Regions from separate parts of the Homo sapiens genome. Here regions 1 and 2 are each linked to region 3. The links come from fine-mapping of genetic effects on gene expression. A gene starts in region 3. Each other region holds a variant in brackets. All regions are shown on one strand. Distances are from middle to middle. Region 1 has its middle 22 kb from the start of OR2B6. Region 2 has its middle 5.0 kb from the start of H2BC13. Region 3 holds the start of LINC01012 (long intergenic non-protein coding RNA 1012).

Region 1 (8,624 bases), 290 kb after region 3:
TTTATCTTCAGAAAAAAACTAGAATCTAATGCAGAGAAGAGAGTTTGGGGCTTGTCACCTTGTTTCTTGACAAGTTGAGATCATTGTAATCACTTCCATATGATTTCTGGTGCATTCGTATCATAATCATACTGTTACTTTCTATTTCTATTAACCACATAATCTTCCACAAAATCCTAGATAACAATCCAAGCCAGAGGAAATAACATGAACATTTCTTCTTCCTGTATACTTTGGGAAAGTTGAAACCAGGTAAGCCTAAATGACCAGAGAAAATAGGGAAATTTTTCTTTTACTTTGGTATACTGTATTTGACTATGGAAAATAAATTTACTATAAGAACGTCAATGTCAAGACGTTTTCACCAAAGACAAGTTTTTCATTTGAAAATCAAAATATCTGTGATAAAAATTTAAGTCCTACTCTGTATTTATTTTTTCTCATTTCCTAATTGAATATACTAATTAGAAGCAGCCCTTAATTCTGTAGATTGCATTGTAGTGTGAGGTATATTTCACACCCATATTGTACCTGCTGTTCTGCTATTTTCACACTTCTCCTTTTCTCTGTTATTTCACTTTTATCCTAGTATCCTTTAACCCAGTTATGAGTGTGTGTCTTTATGAATCGATCTGACTTTATTCTTCTTAGCCATGTTAGGGTCATTTTTTAAATTTATGTTTTTAAATGATGCTTTTTAAATTCCTTTTTATTTACCACATTCTCCTTCCCTTTGTCTCTACTCGTCCCTATTGCCGTGCACCTCTCCTCTGTAAGCTAATCACATTGTTTTTTAACATTTGCAAAAGGCTAACTGAAGATAAAATATATTCAAAATTGCCATTTTATTAATGGACAGAATATGCTCCCTGACTTTGGCAATCTTGGTTGCAAAATTCTCTTGCTTACAAAGACATGAATTGTAGAGATCAAAGTTGACAGTAAGTATTTCACGGGAATAAAGAACTGTGATATTTAGTAGATACAGTTATAACCTAAGTGAAAAGATAACATTAACACTGTAAAGTAGATGCATACTTATGCCACAGTAATTAGATCATAATAGTTCAGCTCATGGTGGGCAGTAATTTCCCTGTGTCTTGTGTTTTTCAAAAATGCAAGTAGTGAGCTCAGCCATGGTGTCACATTTTCAGGTCATTGTCAACATTGAGGGCATGTAGAAGACAGCTATTAGGTGACAATACATTTGCTAACCTTGTTTATAAGAACAGTTGAAGGAAAGTGAATGTCTTAGACTACAGAAAATTTAGTCAAGATGTAGTAAATGCCTATAATAGGTTAATGGATATTGGCCAGGTGCAGTGGCTCACACCTGGCCAACATCCATTCAGTTCAGCACTTTGGGAGGCCAAGGCAAGAGGATCACTTGAGGCCAGGAGTTTGATACCAGCCTGGGCAAGATAGTGAGACCTTATCTCTACAAAAACATGAACAAAATTAGCCGGGCATGGTGGTGTGCGCCTGTAGTCCCAGCTACTCAGCAGGCTGAGGTGGGAGGATTGTTTGAACCTGAGAGGCAGAGGTTGCAGTGAGCTGAGGTTGTATCATTGCACACCAGCCTGGGCTACAGAGCAAGACCCTGTCTCAAAAACAAACAAACAAACAAAAAAACAGTTAATGATGTAATAGGAAGAGGTATTAGATTGATGTGTATTCAATAAATTTAAAATAGTTTGTCTTGTGCATCATAGGGAGAAAATGTCTACTTAATAAAAAGAGGATTATAAATAAGAATTTCCCAACAATGAAACACTTTGCCTTATGTGTTTGAACAAATGATAAACAGCTTATATAGCTAGCTGGGCAGAAGATATGCTACAATTATTGAATGGGTTGTTAGGCTTGATAGTTATATGTCCCCCCCAAATCCTGACATTCAATGGTATTCACATATTGCAGATTAAATATTCTTCATTTTGTCCCTACTAGCTATACAGATGATGTGAAAGGAAGGCAATGGAAAAATCCAATGTCAGCTCAGTGTATGGTTTTATCTTGGTGGGTTTCTCTGATCGTCCCAAGCTGGAGATGGTGCTCTTTACAGTAAATTTTATTCTGTATTCAGTGGCTGTGCTGGGAAATTCAACCATAATCCTTGTGTGTATATTAGACTCTCAACTTCATACCCCAATGTACTTCTTTCTGGCAAATCTTTCCTTTCTAGATCTCTGCTTCAGTACTAGTTGCATCCCACAAATGCTGGTAAACCTCTGGGGCCCTGACAAGACTATTAGCTGTGCTGGCTGTGTTGTCCAGCTTTTCTCTTTCCTTTCTGTCAGGGGAATTGAGTGCATCCTTCTGGCTGTCATGGCCTATGACAGCTATGCTGCAGTCTGCAAACCGTTGCGCTATCTGGTCATTATGCACCTCCAGCTGTGTCTAGGACTGATGGCTGCAGCCTGGGGGAGTGGACTGGTCAATGCCGTTGTCATGTCACCACTAACAATGACCCTCTCCAGAAGTGGCCGCCGCCGAGTTAACCATTTCCTCTGTGAAAGCCAGCACTGATCAAGATGGCTTGTTTGGATGTTCGTGCAGTGGAAATGCTGGCTTTTGCTTTTGCCGTTCTCATTGTCCTACTGCCCCTCACTCTTATTCTTGTCTCCTACGGCTACATTGCTGCAGCTGTGCTAAGCATCAAGTCAGCTGCCAGGCAATGGAAGGCCTTCCATACCTGTAGCTCTCACCTCACAGTGGTCTCCCTGTTTTATGGGAGCATCATCTATATGTATATGCAGCCAGGAAACAGTTCTTCCCAAGACCAAGGCAAGTTTCTCACTCTCTTCTACAACCTGGTGACTCCTATGTTGAATCTGCTCATCTATACTTTAAGGAATAAGGAGGTGAAAGGAGCACTGAAGAAGGTTTTGGGGAGGCAATAATGAACTGGAGAAATATGATAAGTTGTGAAGTCTTAGGCAAAATATCTTTTCCAAATACATTTATTTTGTGCTTATAAGAAATCTAGCCAATGTATCAAACATTCTTGGATTTTTAAAGTATGAATAAATACACTGAAGTATATCCAAAATCAATATGAATCAACCATAGCTACACTTGATATGAATAAGTCTTAGCCTAATAATATTTAGTAAAAAGAATTAAGTCCCAGAAGAAATGTGAAATGACTCTCATATAGATATAAAATAAATGTGTTAAAGATTTTTATTCAACTCAATCAATGAGGGGCCCACACAGATGTAATAAGTGGTTCAAAAAAAAGTCAAAGAAGCACAAATTTATAAGGAGTAAATCAATGTGGAAATGCATGTGCAAATAGAGGCTAAACTTGCTTCTTCCACTGTGGGAGAAGGAAGTAAATTCAATCTCTACCCAACAGGACTGAATTTGTATGTCATAGACAAGAATTATTTTACATTGCTATCAGTTAATAATTTACAAAATTGTAAAATATCTGCCACAGAATCAGAATCAGATTGTTCAAAGGGATGTCCTCTAGAATCTGGACAATGCATAATTTTTCACTGAAGCATAAATTTTTCCCTGTAAGTTAAATCCTGTATCTTATTCATGTTACAACACTAAGTATATAGTCTCAAGCCTCTTAATTAACCTGGGTCACACAGAGAATAAGTGGGATTTGCAAATGGTGTATATGATGCCTGAACCTTTGCTGTTAACCACTGAATAATATTGTCTTTGTTATAGAGTGTTGGTGCATAGATCACTCAATAATCAGCCCCAGGCTGTTTGTTTCATCAGTTTGTACAATCCTTCAAGCATGAGGGATATGCTAATAGACTCTCTGAGAGAATTCTCACCACTTATTAATATCAGCCATTTCCACATTGTCCCATGCAAACTCCCCATCCAAATCTTTTCCATGTTTTGGTGGTCAGCTCAATGCAACATACTTATAAAATTGTCTGAGAATCTTTGATTTAAAAATGTTCTAGCACTCCTTTTAACATATGGCATTTTTATACACTGAAATGACAGGTTTTCTACTCCATATTATACTTATGTATTTCTCATGTATCCTACTAGATTGTAAGTTCCTTGATGGTAGGGCTATTTATTTTCTTAATCTCTCTTAGCATCATTCCAGGTATTAAGTTGATATCAAAGTGCCTTGCAGATAGTAAGTGATCAATAGTAGCTTGGGGTGATTATTAATTTTAACTGATTAATTATTTCTTCCATAAATTATTTCTTCTTTTTTAATTGATGCCACTATCTAATTCTGTCTCTGTTCTTCAAAATTACAAATAAATCTATAACAATATAATGTCTCAGTTTAAAGCTATTGTCAAAAGTTTTATACTTTTCTTTCTTAATTCAATGTAAACTATACAATAAGAGAAAAAAATAGTCATTAAGGAATTTCTTACCATGGGTATCAAAAGTCATCCCCATATTTTTGGAATAAAAACTTTTTTTCTTAAATATGCATTATAAACTCAAGAGAAATTATGATGAATTCTGCCACAGTCTAAGAATTAGTGTT[T/C]AAGAATTAGTTTGAGAGTTAGTTAAGAATTAGTTTGATCACACGTTTGAATTAACTAAGAGTTAACACCACCTGGACAGATCATTTTCAGTGATATGAAAGTTAGTTTTGGCCACAACATGTTGATTATACCTCTAACTCTGATTATACCTCTAAGTCAATTTTATAAAGATAAAATCTTGATAGTATTTGTTCTTGGTTTTAAAGAGTGTCTGCCTCAATATGCCCCAATGTATCCAAATAAATAAGTAATCACTCCCTTAATGCAATTAATTTGGTCAGTCTAAAAAGAATTAGGGCCAGAGGTAACTTTTTATGTGGGACTCAAAATCCTACCAATGTTACACATTACAAATATTTATGATTTGCAGACATAACACATTCATTGGCAAGTAAGTGCAATAAATTTACAAGTTATTTTGCCAAAATATGTCAAGTAACATTTTATTCACTTGCACAAAAATAAATATATCATCTGTGCAATAGAAATATCTGATGACAACAACAGTGCAGCATTCTCAGTTCCAGAAGAAAGGTGAATTGGCTCTCATATAGATATAAAATTACTGCTAAAATCCCTGCTATGCTGCAGTCTGCAAAACCTTTGTGCTATATGGTCATTATGCACCCCCAGCTGTGTCTACAACAACAGTGCAGCGTTGGCATGCATGTGACAACAGTGCATCCAATCCTCTTTGGATTGGCATAAGAAGGATATTTCTCCCCTCATTAAAATGGTTTTCTCTCATGCAATTTCTTTATGGTCTCAAGTTCATTATTCCCTATTTGTTACCCATTTCCCATTGTTAAACATTAAAACCAGCAAAAATATTTTTTAAAAAAGCTTCTGTAAATATAAGTGGGAAAATATATGTTTGCAATTCATAGATGTGCTGGAAAGTTATGAAGGCCAGTGGGAGTGATTATATTTACATAATACCAAATTTTACACTGAAAATAGAAATTACTTTTAATGAAGTTACTGCAATGAGCAGGTGGAAAAAATGCTTTAAATGAACTTACTTTTGTCTCTGGTGCAGAGTTGCATATACCATTTTTTAAAGCTACAGAGATTTAAGTTAGGGGACATCTAGAATTTCTATTCTTGTGATAAATGTACAAGCCCCCATAATACGTGTTATAGATTTGGTGATTTCCAAACAGCTTCTACTTCTCTGCTTTTTGTATTTGTTTCAGAAGACATCAATAGTAATTTAATATCTTAAAAAGCCATGTTCATTTTTCATATTCTGTGTTTTACAGAGTATTTGTCTTGAAATAACATATTGGCAGTATTCTTAAGACCGAGAATAAAAAAAAATGTTTTGCTATTCGAGGCCTAAAATCCAACTAAAATAATTTGTAAAGGTGTAACAGAAGAAATATGAATATGGAATGAGTGCCATGTATCAGTTCTAAAATAAATTTTGTAGATTGTCGATCCTATAAGATCTCCCTTTTATTCATGGTATATATACTCCCTGTAAATGTGTTCAGAATTTTTCACAACAGAACTATCTACTGCATCTGTACTGCATTGCCAAAGAAATTCTTCTGTTGGATCTCAGAAGTTCTTAGTATCTTTAGTAGTTTTTTTAAAAGGATAAACTAATTCAAACCTCTTTCTACTAGAGTATTTTATTGTAAGAGGAGATCATTTTTGTGGAAATAGTCACTAAAATGAATAAATCCAAAATGTGAGAATATCACTCATCATTATGAGACTTATTAAAAATAATAGTTATCAGCTTGAGAAGAGAGGACGGCTCACAAACCTCCACAAAGACATAGCTGTTCACATTCACTCTGTGTAAAAATAAATATCACAATTATAACTGATAAGAACATTTAAATAATATTTACTTTTTTTGAGACAGTCTCACTTTGTCACCCAGGCTGGAGTGCAGTGGCACAATCCAGCTCACTGCAGCCTCAACTTACTGGGGCTCAAGTGATCCTCCCACCTCAGCCTCCCTGGTAGCTGGGACTACAGGTGTGCCCCACTATGCACAGCTAATTTTTCTATATTTTGTAGAGATGGGGTCTCACCATGTTGCCCAGGCTGGTCTCAAACTCCTGGGCTCAAGCAATCTGCCTGCCTCAGCCTCCCAAAGTGTTGAGATTACAGGAGTGAGCCATGGCGCCCAGGAAATATTTACTTTTTAAGTATAAAAAGTAGCTTCTTTCTTCTGGTTTCTTGTTAAAAGTGCCAATATCTTCTTCTTCATGATTATGAAGAAAAATAAAAAATTCTGTTTCACCTTGTATAGTAACTGTTTCTAAAATTCCAGAATTGATTGGTTCTCTGAAAAACAAAAATCTATGTTGACTATAATTTGTAATGCCCTCAGCTAGTGTCTCTGCTATATATACCTCTATGTTATAAGACTATGGGAACATTCTTCAAAAATATTATCTAAAGAGCCCATGTAAAGATTATCATGGAATAATACAATGAGGAAATTTAATTATTCTGTGACATCAAACATATGCTTGCCTAAGAAACCTAAAAAAAGTTAAATTATTTTTGAAATTTTCAGTCAGATATTTCTATTGCACAGATGATATATTTATTTTTGTGCAAGTGAAAAAAATGTTACTTGACATATTTTGGCAAAATAACTTGTAAATTTATTGCACTTACTTGCCAATGAATGTGTTATGTCTGCAAATCATAAATATTTGTAATGTGTAACACTGGTAGGATTTTGAGTCCCACATAAAAAGTTACCTCTGGCCCTAATTCTTTTTAGACTGATCAAATTAATTGCATTAAGGGAGTGATTAACTATTTATTTGGATACATTGGGGCATATTGAGGCAGACACTCTTTAAAACCAAGAACAAATACTATCAAGATTTTATCTTTATAAAATTGACTTAGAGGTATAATCAGAGTTAGAGGTATAATCAACATGTTGTGGCCAAAACTAACTTTCATATCACTGAAAATGATCTGTCCAGATGGTGTTAACTCTTAGTTAATTCAAACATGTGTGATCAAACTAATTCTTAAACACTCCAGCTCAATACTTCATTTGTAGGTTATAATCTTTCCATAGGGTAGATGCAGGTTTTCATGAAGTTATTATTATTTTTCGAGACAGGATTTCACTCCTGTAGCCCAGGCTGGAGTGCAATGGCATGATTTCAGCTCACTGTAACCTCCGCCTCCTGGGCTCAAGTGATTCTCCCACCGCAGCCTTCTTAGTAGCTGGGACTACAGGCGCATGCCACTATGCCCAACTAATTTTTGTATTTTTTGGTAGAGATGGGGTTTCACCATGTTGCCCAGGCTGGTCTCGAACTTCTGAGCTTGGACGATCCGCCAGCCTCAGCCTCTCAAAGTGCTGGGATTACCGGCGTGAACCACCGCGCCCGGCCTACTGGTTTTCATGAAATTATAAAATGACCCAGAAATTTAAAAAAACCTTTTCTCCTGTGGATAGACTTTTGTCATTAATTTTTTACAGTGGATAAAATTATTGTTTACATTTAGATTTAGCCCTAGGTTTTAGAAAACATCCTCCTTTTTCCTTTCTGGTCTTCAACAATATGTATTTTATTTCAAAAAAGAGTGGAAGAAGAAAGAGCAGAGATATTTTAGTTACTGAACATTAGAGTTGGATCCCAGCTCTGCCATATTTAAATTTACATCTTTCCCCAAGCTACCTAATTTCTCTCATTCCTGAGTTATTTAGCTGCAAAATCTGAATTATTATATAAATTTCATGGGGTTATTTTTATAGTAATTAATACTATATTGCCATCAATGTAAAAATTTTCTTTAACTGTAAAAAGACACGACAATCTATGTAGGTGTCTGAAAGCAAATGTGGTTGAGAACAGGTAGCTATTGAGGCAGGCTCCCCTGAGGTGGGATTTGGGAATGGCAGAGGGATGACTGCAGACCCACTGCCACCCTGGTTGTACTACTGCTCAGCCTCACCTATCAGAATGTATCATTAGACTAAGGAAACAACCAGCTTCCTCCAACTGAACAGGAATAACTCCCAGATTTTTACTCTTCCTCCTTAAGTCATTGCAACTTTAAACAAATGGTTAAATTGCCCTAAATGGTTCCAGAAATATTCACCCGCATTGTTAAGTTGCTTCAACTTTCAATCTATACTTA
Region 2 (8,624 bases), 110 kb after region 3:
ATTTTAGCAGGCTATTTTCAGCGTGTATTCTCAATGCTAATATATTGTCTCTCATATATTAAGTGCTCAATAAATGTTTTTTTGGTTAAGTAAGTTAATTTCCTTTAAGCTGGCTGATGGGGTCATATAGAGGTAAAATTACTGGCTCTGAGTGATTTTCCTCACTTATAAATATAATTTGCAGTAATTTCTATATTATTCTTTTCCTCTTAATGCATGGTGATAATTATTTCCCTGTTACATATGTCTTTTTTGTTTGTTTGTTTGTTTGTTTGAGACAGAGCCTCGCTCTGTTTCCCAGGCTGGAGTTCAGTGGCGCAGTCTTGGCTCACTGCAACCTCTGCCTCCCGGGTTCAAGTGATTCTCCTGCCTTAGCCTTCTGAGTAGCTGGGATTACAGGCATGTGCCACCATGCCCAGCTAATTTTTGTAATTTTAGTAGAGACGAGGTTTCACCATGTTGGCCAGGCTGGTCCTGAACTCCTGACCTCAAGTGATCTGCCCACCTCGGCCTCCCAAAGTACTGGGATTACGGGCATGAGCCACCATGCCTGTCCTACATATATCTTATTCATTGTCTTATTCAATCATACAACTTCCTGATAAAATGAGGCTGATTTTCACCCCTATTTTGCTGTTAAGGAAACTGGTATAATGAGTGTCACTGACTTGTTTGTGATCACACAGTGGACAAAATGGCATTTGTTTCTTTGTGGTGATCTCACAAAGGTCAAGATGACCTTAGATCCTCAGTTTTGGCTGTTTTTTTTTTGTTGTTTTTTTGTTTGTTTGTTTGTTTTACACCAAGGAACCAGGTTCTAGCTCCTATGTTTGTTCATTGCATGGAAAGGAACAGGAAGATCTGGGGGCCACTGAATGGAAGGTTAGATCCATTTTCTTGGTTAAGCTTGTAGGTTTTCTCGTCTCTTTTCCTTCCTGCAGCACAATTCTTATGAATGGCAATATCTTCTATTAAAATTCTCAGTCTGTAGTCTTCTTGTCCATACAGAAAATAGATTTCAGGTCAACACATTTGATAGTCTGGACTGTGCTAACTGCTCCAATATTTGAGTACATCTTTTGGGGATGTGGGAATTTAGTGTTGTAGGCCTCAAGTGGGGTTCGTTCCCAGAATTTGGAGAGGCTATAGAAATATAACCTGGTTGGCCAGGCACGGTGACTCATGCCTGTAACCCCATCAATGTGGGAGGCCGAGGCAGGTGGATCACCTGAGGTCAGGAGTTCGGGACCAGCCTGGCCAACATGGAGAAACCCTGTCTCTACTAAAAACTTTTAAAAAATTAGGCGGGCGTGGTGGTACGTGCCTGTAATCCCAGCTACTTGGGAGGCTGAAGTAGGAGAATCCCTTGAACCCGGGAGGTGGAGGTTGCAGTGAGCTGAGATCACACCATTGCACTCCAGGGCAACAGAGTGAGACTCCATCTCAAAAAAAAAAAAAAAAGAAAAAGAAATATAACCTGGCCATAATATAAGCATAAATAAAATAGATGACATTCTTTCAAAGCTTTTCTTAGCCTCTTATGTTTCTCAGATATTAAATAATCGGGCCAGGCACAGTGGCTCACGCCTGTAATCCTAGCACTTTGGGAGGCCGAGGCGGGCAGATTAACTGAGGTCAGGAGTTCAAGACCAGCCTGGCCAACATGGTGAAACTCCATCTCTACTAAAAACACAAAAAATTAGCCAGGTGCAGTGGCACGCGCCTGTAATCCCAGCTACTCGGGAGGCTGAGGCAGGAGAATCGCTTGAACCTGGGAGGTGGAGGTTGTGGTGAGCAGAGATCGTGCCACTGCACTCCAGCCTGGGCGACAGAACGAGACTTCATCTCAAATAAAAATTTAAAAAAAAAATAGTCAAATGCAAAATAAAGTAACATTCCAGCAATTTAATGACAGATATTGAAGCCACCTTTGCAAAATTATGACTGAGACAGAGAAAGAGATGGAATTTAACCAACTCCGTCTTGCTTCTAACCTCCAAGCCATCCTTGTTCATTCCTGGGTGTAGGCTGAACTAATTTAGGGAGAAACTTAGTTTGTAGTTTATAGTTTAAACAAAGATGGTAACAGCCCTTTCCCAAAGCAGACCTCCTTCTTGCCTTGGGACTGGATTGCCTTTGTAGGACTAACATTAGCCACAAGATTAAAAATTATGGCAGCTGGAGGCTACAAGATTCTAACCCTCCCTAACTGCTCCTAAGATCAGTGCTTGAGATATTTTGCAGACGCTGCACTCAAGATGGGTCAGATAGCACCACCCAGATCTATTAACTGGCTCATCTGATCCTGTAGCCCCCACCCAGGAACTGACTCAGCACAAGAAGAGAGCTTCAACTCCCTATGATTTAATCTCTGACCATTCAGCACTCCTGGCTCACTGGCTTCCCCCCATCCACCAAGTTATCCTTAAAAACTCTGCTCCCCAAATGCCCAGGGAAACTGATTTGAGTAATAAAACTCCAGTCTCCTGCACAGCCAGCTCTGTGTGAATTACTCTTTCTCTATTGCAATTCCCCTGTCTTGATGAATCAGCTCTGTCTAGGCAGCGGGCAAGGTTAACCCCTTGGGTGGTTACAATATGTACATGGGAAAGTGGTTGGCCTGCTTGGAATTGGAACAAAGGCAAACTAAGCATGATGATTATCAATGAGTTGCAGCCCAAAACCAACCAAGGAAGGACTATTAGTTCATGCTAGATTGCCTGTGTGGCTGTTTAAGACAGGATTCCACCAACAGTAAGAGAGACAAGTTTTAATCCCATTCAAAATTATGAAACTATTCCTTAGTAACCAGGCTGTTTCATTTACTTTGATTTGTTACTTACTAAAGCAATTTCTGATTAACAATTTGTGGTCAGTTCTAAGTCCAGGCACATCTTCCACTATAATTAACACAATGAGTTCTAGCTTTACTATTTTCTTATAAGTTTTGTTATTGTGAATATATCCTTCAGATGCAAGCATCCCAATAAAATCTCTGCTTGAAAAGGCCTGGTGCAATGGCTCACGCCTGTACTCCCAGCACTTTGGGAGGCCGAGGTGGGCGGATCACCTGAGCTCAGGAGTTTGAGATCAGCCTGGCCAACATGGTGAAACCCCGTCTCTACTAAAAATACAAATATTAGCTGGGTGCGGTGGTGTGCACCTGTAGTCCCAGCTACTTGGGAGGCTGAGGCATGAGAATCGCTTGAACGTGGGAGGCAGAGGTTGCAGTGAGCAGAGATTGCACCACTGCACTCCAGCCTGGGTGACAGCGAGACTTCGTCTCAAATAAATGAATGAATGAATGAAT[G/A]AATAAATAAATAAATAAAATTCCCACCTGAAGCATTCCATCAGTACATCCAGGTTATAACAACCGACACTCATGGAAACATTGCAGAGGAAGGCAGGCTAGGGGAGAATGTCAGGTTTGCAGGACCTTCTTTGGTATGGTACAAATGTGTCCCCCAAAATTAATGTGTTGGAAACTTAAGCCCCAGTGCAACAAGGTTGGGAGGTAGAGTCTTTTGGAAAATGTTTAAGTCATGAGGGCTCTGCTTTCAGGAATGAATTAATGCTGTTATAAAAGGGCTTGACAGAGGAAGGGAGTTCATCCCTTTTTGTCCTGCCATAGGAAGACATAGTGTTACTCCCCACAACCTTCCCCCAAAGACACAGGACTCAAGGTGCCAATTTGGAAGCAGAGACCTGGCCTTCAGCAGCCATGGAATCTTCTAGGACCTGAATCTTGTACTCCCAGCCTCCAGAACTGGGAGAAAAATAAATTCCTTTATAAATTACTCACTCAGATATTCCGTTATAGCAGCACAAATGAACTGACGTTGCTTAAGGTTTTCTAGCCTTAAATGCTATGATTATTCAATTATAGCTCATATCTTGTAAATATGTTCTGAGACAGGCTGAAGAGTAAGTTCTTATAAGGGAACATGAGGTTGTAATGAAAAAAAATCAATTTAGAAAAAAGCTTTTATGAAAGAAGTTGAGGACTGTACCTACGTTAAGCATGAAAATAACAAAAACAAAAAAATACCCTTATTCCTGACAATAAGCCAAAATGTTCATTTGAGAGAAGTATCACCTAGAGGGTAGACAATAAAGCCCTGTTGAAGGATACGTATGCTCTCTTATTCTCCTGTTATGAAATAAAATCCTCTTCCAGTCTTTTTATATTTCTTCATGTCAAATATCCATTCAGGCCTACTCCTTCTTATAATTTAATACCTACTAATAAAATTTTAGAACATGGCCTTGCAAATAATTTTTTTTTTTTTTTTGAGACAGGATCTCACTCTGTCGCCCAGGCTAGAGTACAGTGGCTCGATCTCGGCTCACTGCAACCTCCACCTCCCGGATTCAAGCGATTCTCCTGCCTCAGCCTCCCGAGTAGCCGGGATTATAGGCGCGAGCCACCATGCCTGCCTAATTTTAAAAAAACTTTTAGTAGAGACGGGGTTTTACCATGTTGTGTTGAGCAGGGCGGTCTCGAACTCCTAGCCTCAAGTGATCCGCCTGCCTCGGCCTCCCAAAGTGCTGGGAATACAGGCATGAGCCACCGCGCCTGGCTATACATTTTTTTTTTTTTGAGACGGACTTTCGCTCTTGTTGCCCAGGCTGGAGTGCGATGGCGCCATCTCGGCTCACCGCAACCTCCACCTCCCTGGTTCAAGCGATTTTCCTGACTTAGCCTCCCGAGTAGCTGGGATTACAGGCATGCGCCCCCACGCCCAGCTAATTTTGTATTTTAAGTAGAGACGGGGTTTCCCCATGTTGGTCAGGCTGGTCTCAGACTCCTAATCTCAGGTGATCTGCCCACCTCGGCCTCCCAAAGTGCTGGGATTACAGGCAGGAGCCACCGCGCTTGGCCCTATAAAATCCTAATTAACAAAATCATTCACACACACACACACACACACACACACACACACACACACACACAGATGTAAGGGCATGGTCTCTCTTCCTTGAAGCTACGGAATTACAATTCTCCTTCACAAAGACAGTCAAAGGATGTGATCTGATGTGTTAGATTTTCTCTCTCCTGTTCAATATGGAGTTTTGCATCTTAGTTTCTTTGGGCCGCTATAAGAAAATACACTAAACTAGGTGACTAACAAATAACAGGATTTTACTTCTTACAGTTCTAAAGGCTAGGAAGTCTAAGATCAAGGAGACACCATATTCTATGTCTAATGAGGCTCACTCTCTGCTTCATAGATAGCATCTTCTTGCTGCAACTTCGTATGGTACAGGGGGTGAACAAGCTCCCTCTTTTATAGGGGTACTAATCCCATTCATGAGGACGCCATCCTTATGACCTATTCACCTCCCAAAGGCCCCACCTCTTAATACCACCATAATGGGGATTATGCTTCAACACAAGTATTTGTTTCTTGTTTTTGTTTTCAACATAAATATTTGGAGGGTAACCATTCAGATCATAGTAGTACCAGTATCCAAAACTGCCACCAAATAGTTTGTTGTAAGTTAAGATAATTGCAGAGCATCACTTAACTTGAAAAGCATTTTCTAAAATGTCCAAATATTAGACACAGTTGAATATCCCATAGATATATATCTATTCAGTGTGCAATTTTGATTCATTGGCTTATTTAGTTATATATTGTGACGGTAACAATGCTCTATTTGGGCCGGGCGCCGTGGCTCACGCCTGTAATCCCAGCACTTTGGGAGGCTGAGGCGGGCAGATCACCTGAGGTCAGGAGTTCAAGACCAGCCTGGCCAACATGACGAAACCCTGTCTCTACTAAAAGTACAAAAATTAGCCGGGCGTGGTGGGGCGTGCCTGTAATCACAGCTACTCAGGAGGCTGAGGCAGGAGAATTGCTTGAACCCCGCGGAGCTTGCAATGAACCCAGATCACGCTATTGCACTCCAGCCTGGGCAACAAGAGTGAGACTCCGTCTCAAAAAAACAAAACAAAACAAAAAACAATGCTCTATTTGACATATCTCTTTTTAACTGGTGACAAATACTTGTAAGAGTCTAAAAGAGACTAATAGTACTTTCTTTTGCTTTTTCTCCCACATGGTCTGACCAACAAAGAAAACTCTATGACTGCTAGATTAACAAATAACTTCAGAGTCTGCTCATTTAAATAAATGTTATTTAAGTAACATTTAAATAAATAGTGTTAAATTGGCATCTGGAATTATGTGTAAAATATTTCAGAATCTCACTTAGTAAGTCCTTCTCAGATTATATCTAGTTGTTTTATCCTGAAGTCCTCATTTTGAGAAGCCTGCCGTGATACAGAAGGAGGCCACTGGTGTAGCATAGTCACAGACTACTTGCTCAGCCCCGTGGGTGCTCCCTTCTGCCTACCCCTGACTTTAGCCACACCACAATATTTCTGCGTTTTTGAAGGTGACACCCATTTTCTTATTGCCCAGAATGCTATTTGGCACTCTTCCCACTCCCACCCATAATATTATTTATTCTGTGCTCCTTAGGCTTTTTATTCATATCTCTACTGCAGCATTTATCATCTTATAATGTGTGTTTTACTGATAATCAAGTGAAGTGATTCTTTACGCTATTTTTTTTTATGGATGGACAATACACACATAGGATTCAAAATTCAAAGACCATAAGAAGTTACAATGAAAAGATCCTCCATCCATCCCTGTCTGTAGGACATCCAACTTTCTCTTTCCTCAGAGGCCACCACTGATAGCAATTTATCCAGTATCCTTCCAAAAATATTTTACATTTATACACACACACAAACACACACAAAATTCTACTGCACATTATCCTGTATCTTGCTTTTATTGCATTTGACAGCAAATTTTGGAAATCATCCCATTATTAGCACCTGGAGAAGCCGTATAGTATACACTGGTTATAAATAGGGATTCTGAAACCAGATTCTGGTTTTGAATCATGTTTTCACTACTCATTACCTGTTACCAACCTAAGTAACAAACATAGAGGCTCTCTAAAGACAAATACATTTATTTGGGAATAAAGCATTGTAATGGGAATCCATATGCTATAAAGTACATGTGTATTCAAGGAGGTAAAGGAAGACAAAGGTTTTTAAAGAAAAAAATAAGGAGGGTTACAATAACAAGGGCGATGCCAGTCCAAGGTTGGGAAGGCAGTTGTTGGACAAATGGTCTTGTAGAAGTATTTTTTGTGTGTGTAAGGTTTTGATGGCCTGTGTTTATGGTTGTGGCTCTTACCATCTTTTGTGATAGTTTTTGTTATTAGGCATACAAGCGTGAGAACTTTCTCTTTATGGCTTTTCTTGGCTCTGTGTCAGGATTTTCTTAACATTAGTGATTTCATTTTGATTGACAACTTTCCCACTGTACAATTTCACACTTTAGGCAATTTACTCGAGCTCTCTGAACCCCCATTTTATGATCTGTAAAACAGGTATAAAAATAGTAATTTTTCACAAAGTTGTTATGAAAGCTAAATGATTTAACATATGTAGAGAGCTTTTTAGGACATTATCTGGCACATGATAAGCAGTAAATAATTATGAAAAAGAGCCTTCTTATTTTTTACTAGATAGAATGATGTACTGTAATTTATTGCTAATCAGTCAAATTGCTTCAGTCTTATACTACAAACAGTGCTGCTGGAAACCCCTGCATATATTATTTTGCATATTTTCAAAAATAGTAAATTCCTAGGGGTGAAATTTCTGATGTAAAGATAGGTGCATTTTAAAATTTTGACAGGTATTACCAAATTTTCCTTTATGAAAGCACTACCAATTTGTGGGGCCACCAGCAATGATTGAGAATTAAGGTCTGGGAGGCTTATTCAGGATTTTCCATTCCTATAGCAGAATACTATGACTGGCCTATGGTGAATAGTAGATGCTTAATAAATGTTAGTAAATTGGATGGTAAATAGTATACGAAAAACAGTTGGGTTTGGGTGAAAACAAGAAAAACTTTTAAAAATCTACTCTGGCATCTTTTGCTAGCAGGCATTGACAATTAGGAGAAGGCAAGGTGTTAACTTTTACTGATCTCCCACTTTTTTTTTTGAGACAAGGCCTGGCTTTATCACCCAGGCTGGAGTGCAGTGGTGCGATCTCAGCTCACTGTAAACTCCGCCTACCAGGCTCAAGCCATCCTCCTACATCAGCCCCCTAAGTAGCTGGGACAACAGGGGCGCGCCACCACTCCTGGCTAATTTTTGTGCTTTTTGCAGAGACGGGGTTTTGCTATGTTGCCCAGGCTGGTTGCGAACTCCTGGGCTCAAGGGATCCGCCCGCCTCCACCTCCCAAAGTGCTGGGATTACAGGCATGAGCCACCGCGCCCACCCCTCTAGTTTCCAGTTTAGTCGGAAAGATTAAAAACGCCAGCCTTGTTTTCCTAGTGCTGTTTTTGGTTTTTACCTCGGGTCTTTTGTCGTGCCTTAAAATCATGTCTGGTTGCGCAAGTGAGGGAAAGGATTGGGTAAAGGGGGCGCCACCGCAAGTTGCTGTGCAACATCCAGACATCACCAGACCCACCACCTGGAGCCTGGCCTGGCGGTGTCAAACGCATTCTGGTCTCATCTTTTTAGAAACCCGTGGATGCTCAAGGAATTTCCGGATAACGTGATCCCGGATGCGCTTGAC
Region 3 (8,624 bases):
CCGATCTTGGCTCACTGCAGCCCCTGTCTCCCAGGTTCAAGCTATTCTCCTGCCTCAGCCTCCCGAGTAGCTGGGATTATAGGCGTGCAGCACCATGTCTGGCTAATTTTTGTATTTTTAGTAGAGACGGGGTTTCGCCATGTTGGCCAGACTGGTCTCGAACTCCTAAGCTCAGGCGATCCACCCACCTCGGCCTCACAAAGTGCTGGGATTACAGGCGTGAGCCACGCTGCCTGGCCTTTCCTTCCATTTTTATTCTTCATCAGCTCAATTCTCACCACCACCTACTATAGGTAAACTCTGTCCTTAATTTCTCATATATCCCTACTGGGTTTCTTTATTTAAATACTGCATTTATATTGATTATTTTTTCTTCTTTTTCACACAAAAGAGAGCTTAGTTATTTACTCGTTGTTCTGCATTTACACTTTTTCTTAATGTATCTTAGATGTTTTAAATTGCACTTTTCAACTTTGTACACTGTTAAAAGCAGAGCTTATTTGGGAGGCCTAGGCGGGTGGATCACGAGGTCAGGAGATAAAGACCATCCAGCCAACATGGTGAAACCCTGTCTCTACTAAAAATACAAAAATTAACCGGGTGTGGCAGCACGCGCCTGTAGTCCCAGCTACTCGGGAGGCTGAGGCAGGAGAATTGCTTGAACCAGGGAGGCCGAGGCTCCAGTGAGCCAAGATCATGCCACTGCATTCCAGCCTAGGCGACAGAGCGAGACTCCATCTGAAAAAAAAAAAAAATCAGCTTATTTTCAAATGAGTTGATCCTACTAGCCAGGAATTGAATATAGATACTTCTTGTCCACTGTACAAAGTACAGGCTTTTTCATCGTAGGAAAGAGGGTGGTGAAGACGATACCCTTAATTTTCTCTTATAAGGTGAACAAAGCACTTTCTTTCCTAGACCATATGATCATCAAAGAGGTTTGAATATGGGCTCCCAAGCTGTACAATAATCAAAGGAAATTATATATAATTTCAACAAACATTTATTGATCTCTCACTCTTCGGTGTGGCAATCCGCTGTCTCTAGTGAAAAGATATGAAGGAAATAATGTTAAGTAACAAACTAGAGTACAAAAATATGTGTGTGCATGAATATTATATATGTATATATGTGTGTGTGTGCATATGTGTGTGTGTGTGTGTGTGTATATATATATATAGATATAGATATAGATTTTTTTTAGACACTGTAGCTCTATTGCCCAGGCTGGAGTGCAGTGGCATGATCTTGGCCAACTGCAACTGTGCCCAGCTGAAAGCCACTCCATCTTGGATGGTAACCCACCATATTGACTTCTGATTAACCCCAGTTCTGGGAATGCCTCTAAGATTTCTACTTTGAGGTACAATAAATCCTGCAATTAGGTGAAAACAACCTTGGTGTTATTGTAACCACATACTTACCATACACAAATCCTGCCCTTAGGCTAGGCGCGGTATGTCATGCCTATAATCCCAACACTTTGGGAGGCCGAGGTGGGCAGATTACTTGAGGTCCAGAGTTTGAGACCTGCCTGGCCAACATGGTGAAATGCCATCTCTACCAAAAACACAAAAATTAGTTGGGCATGGTGGGGCGTGCCTATAGTCCCAGCTACTCCAGAGGCTGAGGAAAGAGAATCGCTTGACCTGGGAGGCAGAGGTTGCAGTGAGCCAAGATCTGGCCATTCCAGCCTGGGCGACAGAAGGAGACCGTCTCAAAAGAAAAGAAAAAAAAAAATCCTGCCCTTAGGCAAATTCCCTGTGGTTCATAAGCCCTGGGTTTGGCTGGTGACAATGTGGGGATCCATCATCTTGTCTTGCTACCACTCAAGACATGGCTTCTGTTATTAAATGTTTCTTTCTGAGAAACTGAATTTGTCAGCCTCTTTCTTTGGCCTCTCAGCTTCCTCAGCCTTTAGGAGTAGACTTGTATAGACCTGCTCACGGTGGAATAAGACTGAAAGCAAACGACATCAGATTCTAACAGCTTTCAGAGGTAATGGTGGTGGGCAAGAGAAAGATACTCTTTCTGCATCAGACGTCTCATCAGCAACCTCGAATGAATGTTAGGAGAAAACAAAATAATGCCTCAAAATCTGGAGGAAAAATGTTTTAATACAGAATTCTATAGCTATGTGTAACATCAAATGTGAAGTTGGAATAAAGACATTTATAAACCTATCATGACTCAAAAAGCTGACCTACATTTTAAGACGCAAACTGAATATATATACTACAGGGAAAATAGGGGGGAAGACAGAGAAAGACATGGAACTCAGGAAATGATGAATCTGATCTAGGAGCTCAAAAATGAAAAACACAGGATGACAGCTATTCAAGAAACCTAGAATGCAACTAATCCATACGGGAGCAGGAAGCTAAAGGACTCAGAGAAGATTTACCAGATTTACCAGACAGGAGGGGATCATGCAGAATAGATTTAATTGAGAACTTGGTAAGTGTTAAGGATGTTGCATTAGAATGTATCATTCAGCTGCGAAATAAAAAATAAAAATGGGAAAAAGGAAGAATAATCCAATTGGCTTAGGACAGAAATACATCTCACGTGACAGGAACTACAGAGGTACTCTGACTCTTTCTCTGTGATTGGCACTGTTCTACCACATCTGGTGTTGGTATTACCCTTAAGCTGTCTAATCTTACAACTATAGTTAATACTGCTGCCACAAGCAGCAAAGTGGTTTTTCCCCATGCATTGAAGGAAAGTCATAACCCCTCCTCCCAATTATGAAAATATTATTATGCCAATTTAGGTCCCTTAAAGATTACATTGAACCTTAAACTTTTCTATGTAACAAACAAAATGCAGGTACTTTTACAGTGGTCATAGAACCAATTTATATATAATTTTTAAAGAATGATTAATAAGCAAGGCCATGAGATGGATGTTTATATTACACAGGAGATACAACTACATGTTTTGGAATTCTGAATTTAACAGGTGGTTGTTTCCTTTTGTTTTACAGATAGTCCTTCGAGATATTATTACAGTTAGTTAGAGAATTAAGAACAGGAGCTTTCTTAAAGATAATACAGGGACAACTGTGACTTTTCTCTCCATATGAATAAAAATTTACATTTTTCCTATCTTCTATTTTATGGCCAGAGAAAACTCTGAGTATTCAGATTTATCCCAAAAGTTTCTAAAATGACCAAACTGTTCAGAATCATGCTTTTTTCCCTTTTCTTTCTTTCTTTTTTTTTTTTGTTTTTTGTTTTTTGTTTTTTGAGATGGAGTCTTGCTCTGTTGTCCAGGCTGGAGTGCAGTGGTGGGATCTCAGCTCACCGCAACCTCCGCTATCTTGGTTCAAGAGATTCTCTTGCGTCAGCCTCTCCAGTAGCTAGGATTACAGGCACCCGCTACCACACTCAGCTAGTTTTTGTATTTTTAGTAGAGTTGGGGTTTCACCATGTTGGCCAGGCTGGTCTCGAAGTCGTGACCTCAAGTGATCTGCCTGCCTCGGCCTCCCAGAGTGCTGGGATTACAGGCGCGAGCCACCACGCCTGAGCAGAATCATGCTCTTAATTGTACTTGAAAAACAAAACTTTATCTGAAAAAACTTTCTGAGTTTTTGTTTGTATGTTTTTGTTTCTGCTAAAGCTCAAAGTTTCTGACCCTAGGCAAGTTTTTATTAGTCATAGTGCATTAATAACAAATAAATACAAATAGGGCTAATAGGAAAAAAAGGACTAAGAAACTAAGAGGTAAGAAACAGAAGAATGACAGGTTTTGCTTTAAGGAAAAGTGGAGTGGCCCGGCCTTGGTGGCTCATGCCTGTAATCCCAGCACTTTGGGAGGCCGAGGCGGGTGGATCACGAGGTCAGGAGTTTGAGACCAGCCTGGCCAAGGTGGTGAAACCTCGTCTCTACTAAAAATACAAAAATTAGCCAGGTGCGGTGGTGGGTGCCTGTAATCCCAGCTACTCGGGAGGCTGAGGAGGCTGAGGCAGGAGAATCGCTTGAACACGGGAGGTGGAGGTTGCAGTGAGCCGAGGTCGCGCCACTGCACTCTAGCCTGGGCGACAGAGCAAGATTCCGTCAAAAAAAAAAAAAAATTAAAAAGATTTGCTTCCAACCACATAAGGGGAGGAGTGGTTTATAGATTAATAAAATTGCCACGAGTTGGTATTTCTTTTCTTTCATCTTGTTTTCTTTCTTTTTTTTTTTTTTTTGAGGCGCAGTTTCGCTGTTGTTGCCCAGGCTGGAGTGCAATGGCGCTATCTCGGCTAATCACAACCTCCGCCTCCTGGGTTTAAGCGATTCTCCTGCCTCAGCCTCCCTAGTAGCTGGGATTGCAGGCATGCACCACCACATCCGGCTAATTCTTTTTATTTTTAGTAGAAACAAGGTTTCTCCATTTTGGTCAGGCTGGTCTCAAACTCCCAACCTCAGGTGATCCGCCCACCTCGGCCTCCCAAAGTGCTGGGATTACAGGCGTGAGCCACCGCGCCAGGCCTTCTTCTTCTTTTTTTTTTTTTTTTTTTTTTTTTTTTGAGAGGAGTCTTGCACTGTCGCGCGGGCTGGTGTGCAGTGGTGTCATCTCGGCTCGCTGCAACCTCCGCCTCCAAGGTTCAAGCGATTCTCCTGCCTCAGTCTCCCGAGTAGCTAGGATTACAGGCGCCCGCCACCACGCCCAACTAGTTTTTTGTATTTTTAGTACAGACGAGGTTTTACTATGTTGGCCAGGTTGGTTTCGAACTCCTGACCTTGTGATCCGCCCGTCTCGGCCTCCCAAAGTGTTGGGATTACAGGCGTGAGCCACCGCGCCCGGCCGAGTTAGTAATTCTTGAAGGTGTGTCAGGTACATTGGATGCACTGTACTATTCTGTCTACCTTTGTATATATACTTTAAAGGTTTTTCCCCACAATTTCTCTGGGAAACCTGAACCTTTCTTCCCCGTGTGTTTAGAAGGGAAGGTGAGGAGAGTCAAAGGCACATGGAGCATTAACAGTTGGAATAAACGACAGAGACACGGAAACCTCCGAGGTTTCCAGAGCGGACCCGGAAATGACGCCAGGGGATGCAAACCCTTCTGCCCCTTTTTGCTACCCCTGAAGCTTACTGTTAGTGGTCGAGTTTTTCTGGAAGTGGGCTTCCGCGATCGCGGGGACCAACGCCCTGAGCTCTTGTGCCCAAAGGGGATCGCCAGGTTTTTTGATGCGGATCGAAAGGGACTGGCCCCGGAGCCTACAACCTGACGCAGGTGGGACTTGGGGAAATGTCGAGAAACCTAGGTCTGGGACTTGAGTTGGCTTCCAGGGCACACATTCTTGTTCAGAAGAAACACATTGCAAAAATCGGGAGGTGACGGGCAGATGAAGTGTCGGCGCTTCGCCTCGGGACTCCAGTGCAACCTATGGGGCTTTTGGAAATGAGGAAGTCGATGACTCTGCAGGGACTCCTCTGACCCAGGAGCAGATGGCGCTCGTCTGGGCACTCCCCAGGAGAAAAGGTGCATCGGGAAGCAGCCTGGCTTGTGGATGGTAATAAGTCACTGTTGATGGGTTGGGTGCAGGGAGGGATTTAAGTTCTTGAGCGACAGATGCTAGGGAGTTTACCTGCTCTGGATAACAGTATCTTGTGGAGGATAGTCACCTGGAAAACAGAAATGGCGTGACTGTGTTGAATACACTGTTTGATGATTCTGGGCATCAGGTGAATAGGAAATGTGTAACGTTATGGATGAGTGTGTGCTCATCGGACAGTAGCAGTGCATCTTAACAGTCGGCCTCTCAGTCCTCCTCTTCCTTAGAATCACCTATAGAGCTTTAAAATTTCCTGGATAATGTTAATGTGCAGCCAGCGATGATGACCATTGGGCTACAGTCAAATCCAAGAGGCGCATCTCATCCTTTGTTCTGATGGACAGAAACCATTATTCTGACATCGTGCCTGTTGGAGACATTGTACCTTAACTAGCATTTAATTCATGTGTGCTGGATTCGCTGAATGAAACTTACCAGCAGGGTACTGAATCTTGAATAATACAAGGAACGAGTAGAATAAGATAGTTCTCATTTTATCCTTATCTAATCTAAGAAATCTAGCAATATTTCTCTGTTTAAGTTTTTTTTCTTCAACAAAAAACAAAATACATGTAAGAGGATTTTCTGACACTGCTGGGGGCTCATAGAATTCTAGTGTCTAGTGTCTTTTCTGTCAGTTAATGTTACAAAGTTCAGTGGTGCTCCTTTTTTGAGATGGTGTCTAGCTCTGTCACTCAGGCTGGAGTGAAGTGGTGCCAACTTGGCTCACTGCATCCTCTGCTTCCCGGGTTCAAGCGATTCTCCTGCCTCAGCCTCCCAAGTAGTTAGGATTTCAGGTGTGTGCCACAACGCCCAGCTACTTAGTAGAGCCGAGGTTTCCCCATGTTGGCCAGGCTGGTCTCGAACTCCTGACCTCAAGTGATCCACACATCTCGGCTTCCCATAGTGCTGGGATTACAGTTGTGATGATCTTAAAACCTCTAACGATTTGGAAATATTCCTCCAGTGATCTTTGTTCTGTCGCAGTGATTGTAATAACATTTATTGAGGAGTTGTATGCCCAGTACTATTAAATAGGTTTACAAATTTTGTTATTTAATCCTCACAACTCTGTTAGAGAGATTGGATATTTTTATATCCATTTAACCACAGTAAAGCTGAGGCTTAGAGGATTTAACCTGGTAATAAGTCCAACATCCCACAACTAGTAAGTGACAGAACCAAGGATTTTCATTCATGTCTGTATAACATAAAAGCCTGTGTTTTATACTTTTTTTTTTTTTTTTTTTTTTTGAGATGAAGTCTCGCTCTTGTCTCCCAATCTGGAGTACAATGGCGCGATCTTGGCTCACCGTAACCTCTGCCTCCCAGGTTCAAGCGATTCTCCTGCCTCAGCCTCCTGAGTAACTGGGATTACAGGTGTGTACCACCACGCCCAGCTAATTTTTTGTATTTTAAGTAGAGACGGGGTTTCACCATGTTGGCCATACTGGTCTCGAACTCTTGACCTCAGGTGATCCATCCACCTCGGCCTTCCAAAGTGCTGGGATTACAGGTGTGAGCTACCGCGCCCAGCCATGTGTTTTTTACTTTTTAGTCAATGGGGCACTTCAGATTACAAGATCTGTGACCCCCCCACAACCATTCCATGAACTATTGGTTCAGCATATAAGAGGACCCGTTTTCTGCCATTTCCTGCATGATGCCTCTAGCAAGCATTGCAATCACAAAGACCTGGGTTTTTAAAATTATTACAAAGAAAAGGAAAGCTTCAGTAGTATGTTGATTAAAGGAATGTCTAGAAAAGGGGAATGGGATATGAGAACCAGGTTACACCAAATTGACAGTTTATGAAAAAATAGTAACCAAGAATATGATACTAATTTTGACTAATTGGTTTTGAATAGACATGGCTTTATTCATTTAAGACAAGCATCTCCATATTTGTGGAGTTTATTCTAGAGGAAAATACAGTTTCTCAGGTGATGGTATTGTGGAGAAAAAGAAATCAGAGAAGGGCAATATGGAGTAGGGTAGAGTGAGGAATGGGTGTTGAGTTTTAAATAGGATGAATGCGGAAGACTTTACCATTATTTAAGCAAAGACTAAGGAATGAGGAGTGAATCACGGGGATTCCAGAGAAGGAACATTCTAGGAAGGAAATATGCCTTGTTTTGGAAGCCATGAAGAGCTCTATACTGTTGACTAGAGATTTGTATTTTGGGTCTGTGACAAATACACCAGGATGATCAGAATCTAGCCAGGAAGGGGTAGAGTTCATGAGAGGAAGGAAGTTGACATTGGCTGGTAAAAACAGACTCTTAAAAGAAACCTCTTTCAGGCGGTGGCTCACGCCTGCAATCCCAGCACTTTGGGAGGCCAAGGTGGGGGCGGATCATGAGGTCAGGAGTTCGAGACCATCCTGGTTAACATGGTGAAACCCCGTCTCTACTAAAAACATAAAAATTAGCCAGGCATGGTGGCCTGCACCTGTAATCCCAGGTACTCAGGAGGCTGAGTCAGGAGAATCACTTGAACCCGGGAGGCGGAGGTTGCAGTGAGCCGAGATCGCGCCACTGCACTCCAGCCTGGGTGACAGAGTGAGACCCTGTCTCAGAAAAAAAAAATAAGAAAATAAGAAACCTCTTTCAAAATAGGCTTTTGCCGGGCGCGGTGGCCCACGCCTGTAATCTCAGCACTTTAGGAGGCCGAGGCGGGCGGATCACGAGGTCAGGAGATCGAGACCATCCTGGCTAACACATGATCCGCCCCCCCTTGGCCTCCCAAAGTGCTGTCTCTATTAAAAATACAAAAAATTAGCCGGGCGTGGTGGCGGGCGCCTTTAGTCCCAGCTACTCAGGAGGCTGAGGCAGGAGAATGTTGTGAACCCAGGAGACGGAGCTTGCAGTGAGCCGAGATCGCGCCACTGCACTCCAGCCTGGGTGACAGAGCGAGACTCCATCTCAAAAAAAAAAAAAAAAAATGGCTTTTAAAAGAATATTTTTACTGACATTGAAAGTAATCTTGTATGTATGTGCTTATGGTAGAGGGAAGAAGAGAAAAGCTAGTGAAAGGAGAAGAAAGCTGACTTCCTGGAAGCTGTTGCAAAAAAAA

The links. PIP is the estimated chance that this variant, and not a neighbour inherited with it, causes the effect.
Region 1: its variant is the best candidate, but not a certain one, in a credible set for the expression of LINC01012 in esophagus mucosa (GTEx, PIP 0.72).
Region 2: its variant is the best candidate, but not a certain one, in a credible set for the expression of LINC01012 in caudate (GTEx, PIP 0.61).

The regions. Positions count from the first base shown.
Region 1 is chr6:27,975,173-27,983,796 of GRCh38, forward strand. It overlaps the pseudogene OR2W4P. Among named protein-coding and RNA genes, the nearest start is that of OR2B6, 22 kb to the left of the region's middle. The variant T/C (reference allele first, on the strand shown) is at 4,490.
Region 2 is chr6:27,798,617-27,807,240 of GRCh38, forward strand. It overlaps the pseudogene H4C10P. Among named protein-coding and RNA genes, the nearest start is that of H2BC13, 5.0 kb to the right of the region's middle. RefSeq lists enhancers at 8,018-8,618, 8,619-8,624. The variant G/A (reference allele first, on the strand shown) is at 3,311.
Region 3 is chr6:27,689,000-27,697,623 of GRCh38, forward strand. It overlaps LINC01012 (long intergenic non-protein coding RNA 1012), which reads left to right and starts at 5,036. Exons shown (of 4, transcript NR_038294.1): 1 at 5,036-5,507.